2 linked regions of the Homo sapiens genome follow. The protein of the gene in region 1 purifies or fractionates together with the protein of each later gene. This does not show direct contact. Each region holds a gene or a part of one and is shown on either strand. Other genes may lie near its edges.

Region 1 (3,500 bases):
GCAGGGTCACTCCGATGACGGGAATTTCATATAACTCTGTAGAGGTTACAAGAGGATATAGCCATATTGCTTTTTCACAGCTGAATTTTTCATCTTTTGAACAGGGTAATACAGACTGAACATAATAGGAACAGCAACATTGTCTTCCTTGCAAATAGAATTGGATCACGCATCACTTTACTTGCCTTGACTCCAGGCTATAGCAGCCACTAAAGTCATTAAATTGGTTTCTTAAAACAAATAATAGTTTTAATTTTTAAGGAAGTGTTTTACCATTTGCCTGAATAGTACCTCACTTTACAAAGAAAGACTGTGAAGCACAGAAAAGTTGAAAATGATAAAATGATATAGACAGCCTTAACAACTCAACACAAGAGGAAAGGCGGCTAGCAACTACTGTTTGGAAGTATGTTCAATCACACTAGTAATTACAGAATTCCAAAGTAAATAAGACTGTACCATTTTATAGCTACAAAATTAGCAATTCAAAACTTATTAATTTATTTTTGAGACAGAGTCTCACTCTGTCATCCAGGCTGGAGTGCAGTGGCATGATCTCAGCTTACTGCAACCTCTGCCTCCCAGGTTCAAGTGGTTCTTGTGCCTCAGCCTCCCAAGTAGCTGGGACTACAGGCACACACCACCACACCTGGCTCATTTTTGTATTTTTAGTAGAGACGGGGTTTCGCCATGTTGGCCAGGCTGGTCTTGAACTCCTGACTTCAAGTGATTCGCCTGCCTTGGCCTCCCAAAATGCTGGGACTACAGGCTTGAGCCACTGCGCCTAGCCAATTCAAAATGTATAAATAATATCTTAATCTGGCAAGTTGGTAATGGAACTGGCAGCCACAGGTTGGTGGCAGTATAACTTGGCGTCATTCTTTAAAAAAATCAATTTCATAATCCTTATTAAGGGTCTATAAAAGTATTCCTACCCATCCTTCAGAATTAATCCTAGTTTAATTCAAAGGAAGAAAAAGGTTCTGCACTCATTAAAGTACTATACATAATAAAGAATAACTCTGAATCAAAATCAAATGCCCAATGATGGTGCAATGGCTACATAAACAAAGGCACTTTCATTAGAGGAGGCATTGTACATTTGATAAAAACAAAAATCATAGAGATTTTATAGCCACATAAAAAAAACTCAGAAAAAAAGTAAAAAACAAATATAAAATTATATCCACACAAGGATTACAGCTATGTAAGAATCTCTGTAAACAGACATGGTCTAGAAGAAAATCAATAAAAATAAAATTGGCAGATGTCCAGGTTGATGGAACTGTGAATAACTTTAAATATATTCTTACATTAGTTTTAGGCCAGGAGTAGTGGCTCACGCCTGTAATCCTAGCACTTTGGGAGGCCAAGGCAGGAGGATCCCTTGGGCCCAGGAGCTCGAGACCAATCTACCATTCTGGGCAACAGGGAGGTCCTGTCTCTATTAAAAGACACATACACACACACACTCTCACTCTTATGTTAGCTTTATATAATGACACTTGCACAGTAAATTTGTGGGAGGAAATAAGATGAAAGAGAATACAGACATAGAAATCCTCAATGGCTCAGTTTTTTTGTATTACTAAATTTTTTTCAGGTTTTGAATTATACAGCATAATTTAAGAAATTCTGATACAATGATGCTGAGATCTGGTAAGAAATATTAATTTTCTTTCACGAATAAAATGTCTCATATATACATACACACGCATACACATAAAGACTAATTTTTGAAACTTAGTTCTGGATCAGTGGGCAATGCCAATAATCTGGTATTCTATTATCTTTGATATCCTTAGCAAGTATTGAAATGAAAAGGAAGTTAACAAACGTGATTACTTTTTAATAACTTCAGAGATACACTGAATCTCTGAAGGAAAGAGACAATGAATATCACTTAAAATATTTTGACAGATATTTAGCTCTCTTGGAAAATTCACGGATCTCAGAAACTTAATCTCAAGGAAAGCAAGAGAAGGAAAATGTATCTTTAACTTGGAAATGATTCTGGAGAAGTTGAAGGCAGATTCTGTAAAACATTTTATCATAAATACCTAGCCCTGTGATTTTTAGAAGCAGCATTCTAACAACTAAATCAATCACATGGAATTTGACAACATTTTTATTTCAATAGCCCTTTGCTACGTGGGACTTCTCAGAGATCTTAAAAACTGTTGTGTTAATATGAAGAAATGATTATTTGAGTAATTCAGAGCCTTACAAACTCTTACACACTACCTTCACATTTTTTGGGGGATGGGGCAAATGGGAGAGGCAACACTATAAATGCAGAGAATAGTCATAACTTCACAACTCATGCTCAGATAGCAAACAAATGTTTACTGAGCACCTACTGTCATTCTACAAAATGCACTTAAGCATTTGAGGTGTGTGCAACATAAAGCCTTGATTTTAAAAACGTTTATTTGTTCCTTGTGTGTTCAATGTGTCTATATTATACTCTGTTAGTAGATAATCAGATCATACAAGTGATCCCTTTCAAGTTAACTGACAATCTATAGCTAATTTATTAACTGGCCAGTTTAAAAAGTAACAGCTAACTTACACTAGACGCTTGAAACTAATTTTGCTTATTCATCTGCTGCCTGTCTCATCTGTAACTAGGAGAAAAACCTTGTCATCATTGAGCTCCCCTCTTGCTCTGCTCCATGGCAGCTTGGGCTGGATCTGTGAGCAGCTCTGCCTTTCATGGCAGAGAAGGATAAACAGCAGTTGAGAGAGCTGGACGGCTGCCCAACTTCGCAGGGCTCCAGTCTCTGCAGTGTGCTGTAAGTATTCATTTGCATTCTCAAAACATCAAACATTTCACATTCAAATGCAAACACACAAATTCCAAAGCAAAATGGAAAACTCGAAGATATTCTTTTACTTCATTTGTAAATAATTGAGAAACCCCTGTAAAAGCTTTTGCTGCTGCAATGACTGGAAAGTGGAATGGAGACATTTTCGAAAGGAACACATGATTTGAATAGGATTATGAAAAAGGCCGAGGTCAAGTCAAGAGTAAAACTGAGACTCTGCCTCAGAAACTGTCAGGTAATTCTACTGTCTAACCCCAAACTCACCAGACTTATTGAATAGAACTGCATGGTCATAAATATCAGAAGCCAAGAAGACGAAACCCGGAAGTGGAAGGGCGTGCTATGGAAAGAAACAGGTCAGATAAATGTAAGTGCAAAAACATTATAGAATAATTAGAGTAGCTTTACAATGATTAAAAGTCGTACAGGTTGTTTGACAGCAATACAAAGAAAAGCAAGTTAGACTTAAGTTAAATGTATACAGTGCTTCTTGACCACTTCACCTTGTATGGCAGGATATTAACCCCCAAATTATGGTTCTTGCCCTTATAGGGTCTGAGGGCCATCACAGACAAAGCAAACAATGGAGCCAGCATCCTTTCCTCAACAACAGGGAATGGAGAAATTTAAACATATAGTCTTTCTGCACAAAAGGATTTGCTAAATATGCAG
Region 2 (3,500 bases), about 27 Mb from region 1:
AATCATCTGGTCTTGTCTGTGGTTTCAGTATGCTCCTTACCTGTCTTCTGAATTATAAAACTATATTTTTAACTGCCTACTGGACATTTCTATCTTAATTTTTTTATGATATGCCATTCCATAACCTGTATGGACATTTCTATTTTGATAGTAAACAAGCAGTGCTAGTTCTATAATACACATGAAAACCTACATATGAACAAATAGTACAAGGTTTACATATGAAAAAATGAAATGAATTCACTTTTTCTGTTCTTCTCTCCTAATCTTTTCCTCTGGTAGTTTCTGTTATCTGTGTTTACTATGTTGTTAGGTAAATGTGTGCTTGTTCCCCTTGTAAATTATGAATTCCTTGGAGGCAGAAGTTTATGTTCATCTTGGTATATTCAGTGTCTAGTGGTCTAAGTTAGTGTAAAACTAAATTTCCTGTATCAGTTGCTTAATCCAGAAATTTGGGAATCCTTGTTTGTTCTACCTAATCACCCATTTTCAGCTTGTCACTAAGTCCTACATCCTGTGCAGTGTGAATATTTGTCAAATTTGTCACTTTGACATTCTTAGTGCCACTTATTCAGGTCTTAGTCGGGCCTTCATTATGTCTTAGGCTGTTAACATAGTACTTTACTGGCCTCTGTGGTTCTATTTCTTGGGTGTATTGGTTAATTGGCTTTGTGGGAAAATAGAAAAAGCCCTGATTTTTGTAGTGTTTGCTGATTACCATGGTGTAAATACTCTCACCATCGTAGATTTTAAGATATCTGTGTGAAAGGTCAACTGGCTCACAGAATTCCTGAAAATGTAACAGTCTGTGCTCAAGAGCCAATAAGAGGCAACTTCAGCACATTGCTGTGTGACTAATCCTTTTTCCATCATCCTCTATACAGCTGCCAGGATTATTGTTCTGTAACATAAAGCTGATAGTGCAATTTCTTGGGTTAAATGAGATATGGTTAAACATTTCAAATGTCTTACAAACCTCTTTTCAAACTGCGCTCCAACCTTTGGAACCACATCTGTCATTCTTTACCATTTCTGTCCAATATACATGTGCTATGATTTAGACACACTGAAATCAGTATTCCCCTTGTTTCTCAAAATATGCCATGGCATTTGCCACTGCTAAACCTTCCCTTTGCTTGGAATGGCTTTTTTCATTTGTCTGGCTGACAGGACTCTTAATTCTGAGAAGCACTTGGCAAATCAGAAGGAAATGTGGTTCTCAGACTTAAAAGCAGCCAAAGTAGCAGTTTCCTTCTTTCATTCCACTACATTTTAAGAATAATCAAGAGTATGAGCCTTTACTTTTTGTTGTTGGTTGTTACCAGAATGATACTAATGATACATCAGCTGATGTATAGATTAGTTAATTCATGGAACCTGCCATGTGTCTGGTATTGTTCAGACACTGGAGAAGAGTTAGCAAACAAAACAAAGACCTTCTTCCCCTCTTGGAGCATACATTATAGCAGATGTAGACAATTTAGGTTTTCTTAAAAGTACTCTATTTTGTTTGTTTCATAATCTCTCTCAAGGCAGCTTTACTTGTATCTACTGTATCATTAGGAGATTTGGTACATGGTTACCATGAGCTCCCTTCTGGGTATCTATTTTTAGCTTTCAATTCTCTTAATTTTTCTTTCATCCACATATTTGTGGATTTCTATATTGAGGGGTATCTTTTTAACATCTGGTATTACTTCTGTTTTCTGTCTATTAGGGGCCTATTTTAAACAGCTTTTCTTTCCATTAACATATTTCACCCATAAATCCTAAATTTCAGTAACACCTATAAATTTATATTTCCTATTGTTACTAAAATTCCAGATTCACTTTGCTATAACAGTATTTGTGTATTGATCTAGAGATATCTGAGGCCATAAATATTACATATGTGTATATATATATATAGAGTCAATTTTCCTGTTGTCTTTTCACTGACAATGATCTTGTTTTCTTGGATTAATAGTTATAGCTAGTAGTTATGGTTTTTTTTTTTTTTTTTTTTTGAGATGAAGTCTTTTTTTTTTTTTTTTGGGACAGAGTCTTGCTCTGTCGCCCAGGCTGGAGTGCAATGGCGCAATCTCAGCTCACTGCAAGCTCCGCCTCCCGGGTTCACGCCATTCTCCTGCCTCAGCCTCTCGAGTAGCTGGGACTACAGGCGCCCACCACCACGCCCGGCTAATTTTTTTTATATTTTTAGTAGAGACGGGGTTTCACTGTGCTAGCCAGGATGGTCTTGATCTCCTGACCTCGTGATCCACCTGCCTCGGCCTCCCAAAGTGCTGGGATTACAGGTGTGAGCCACCGCGCCCGGCCAGAGATAAAGTCTTGCTCTGTCACCCAGGCTGGATTGCAATGGCACGATCTCGGCTCACTGCAGCCTGTGCCTCCCGGGTTCAAGCTATTCTTCCACTTCAGCCTCCCGAGTAGCTGGGATTACAGGCACCCGCCATGATGCCCAGCTAATTTTTGTATTTTTGTAGAGATGGGGTTTGAGGTTTCACCATGTTGGCCAGGCTGGTCTTGAACACCTGACCTCAGGTGATCCACCCACCTCGGCCTCCCAAAGTGCTGGGATTACAGGCATGAGCCAGTGTGCCTGGCCAGTCGTTATGTTTTTTAATCTCTTTCTCAATGTTATACTTCCTTTAGGGTCATGATAAAAGTAAGCATTAAGCAGTATAGTGGAGTGGTTCAGAGTATGGGATCAAAATATGTTAATTATGATTATAATTGTTCTGTTGTTTAATAACTGGTTTAGTACAGGGTAATTAAGGACTTTTCCTTATTTTTTCCCCAATCCAGGGTGTTATAGTGACTTTTTAAACGAAGACTTTGATGTAAAGACTTATACTTCTCAATCTATTCATCAAGCTGTAATTGCTGAACAACTAGCAAAACTTGCCCAAGGAATCAGTCAGTTGGACAGAGAACTACACTTACAGGTAATTCTGATCTTCTGGGTCCCTATGGATTATTCAGCCTAAAGTGATAATTTAGCATTTTTGTAATCTTATTAAATACAAATGCATATTTACATGAAGAAGTACATACTTACCAGTGTGACTTATTTTTCAAAGTAAATTTTTGAAATTTTCTGTAAACCACTTTTTGTTTGTGGAAAAACTAATATACCACCTCACCAAAGCCTTTCATTCATACTTCCTGTTCACCACCTTAACTGATGTGCAACGAATATAGTGGGCAAAAAATAGGATGTGTTCGATAAAGATAATAGAAAATGGAATTTTGGAAGTAAAACAATATGAATAAGAAAAATTGGGATGTTACATTCGCAATTCATACTTTATTAGCACAAAGTGTAGCATTTGCTGAAATTACAGAAAGTTGATAAATGTTATTGTGAGTAGGATACAATATGAGATGTTAGGCGACGGGTCCTAATTTCAGCTATGCTGTTGTTAACTGACTTTAATATCACTTAAAGTCTTTGAGTCTTGCTTTTTTGTTTTTTAATCTATCAGATGGGTTGGAATAAG

What was found.
Region 2: the proteins of SLC35B4 (region 1) and COG5 purify together in Homo sapiens (affinity purification with mass spectrometry; one large-scale study listed by BioGRID and IntAct). This does not show direct contact.

The regions. Positions count from the first base shown.
Region 1 is NC_000007.14:134,296,431-134,299,930, forward strand, and holds part of SLC35B4 (nucleotide sugar transporter SLC35B4), read right to left. Parts: intron 3,169-3,500; coding exon 3,093-3,168; intron 37-3,092; coding exon 1-36. UniProt on the Homo sapiens protein: Antiporter that transports nucleotide sugars across the endoplasmic reticulum (ER) membrane in exchange for another nucleotide sugar.
Region 2 is NC_000007.14:107,557,421-107,560,920, reverse strand, and holds part of COG5 (conserved oligomeric Golgi complex subunit 5), read left to right. Parts: intron 1-2,805; coding exon 2,806-2,945; intron 2,946-3,500.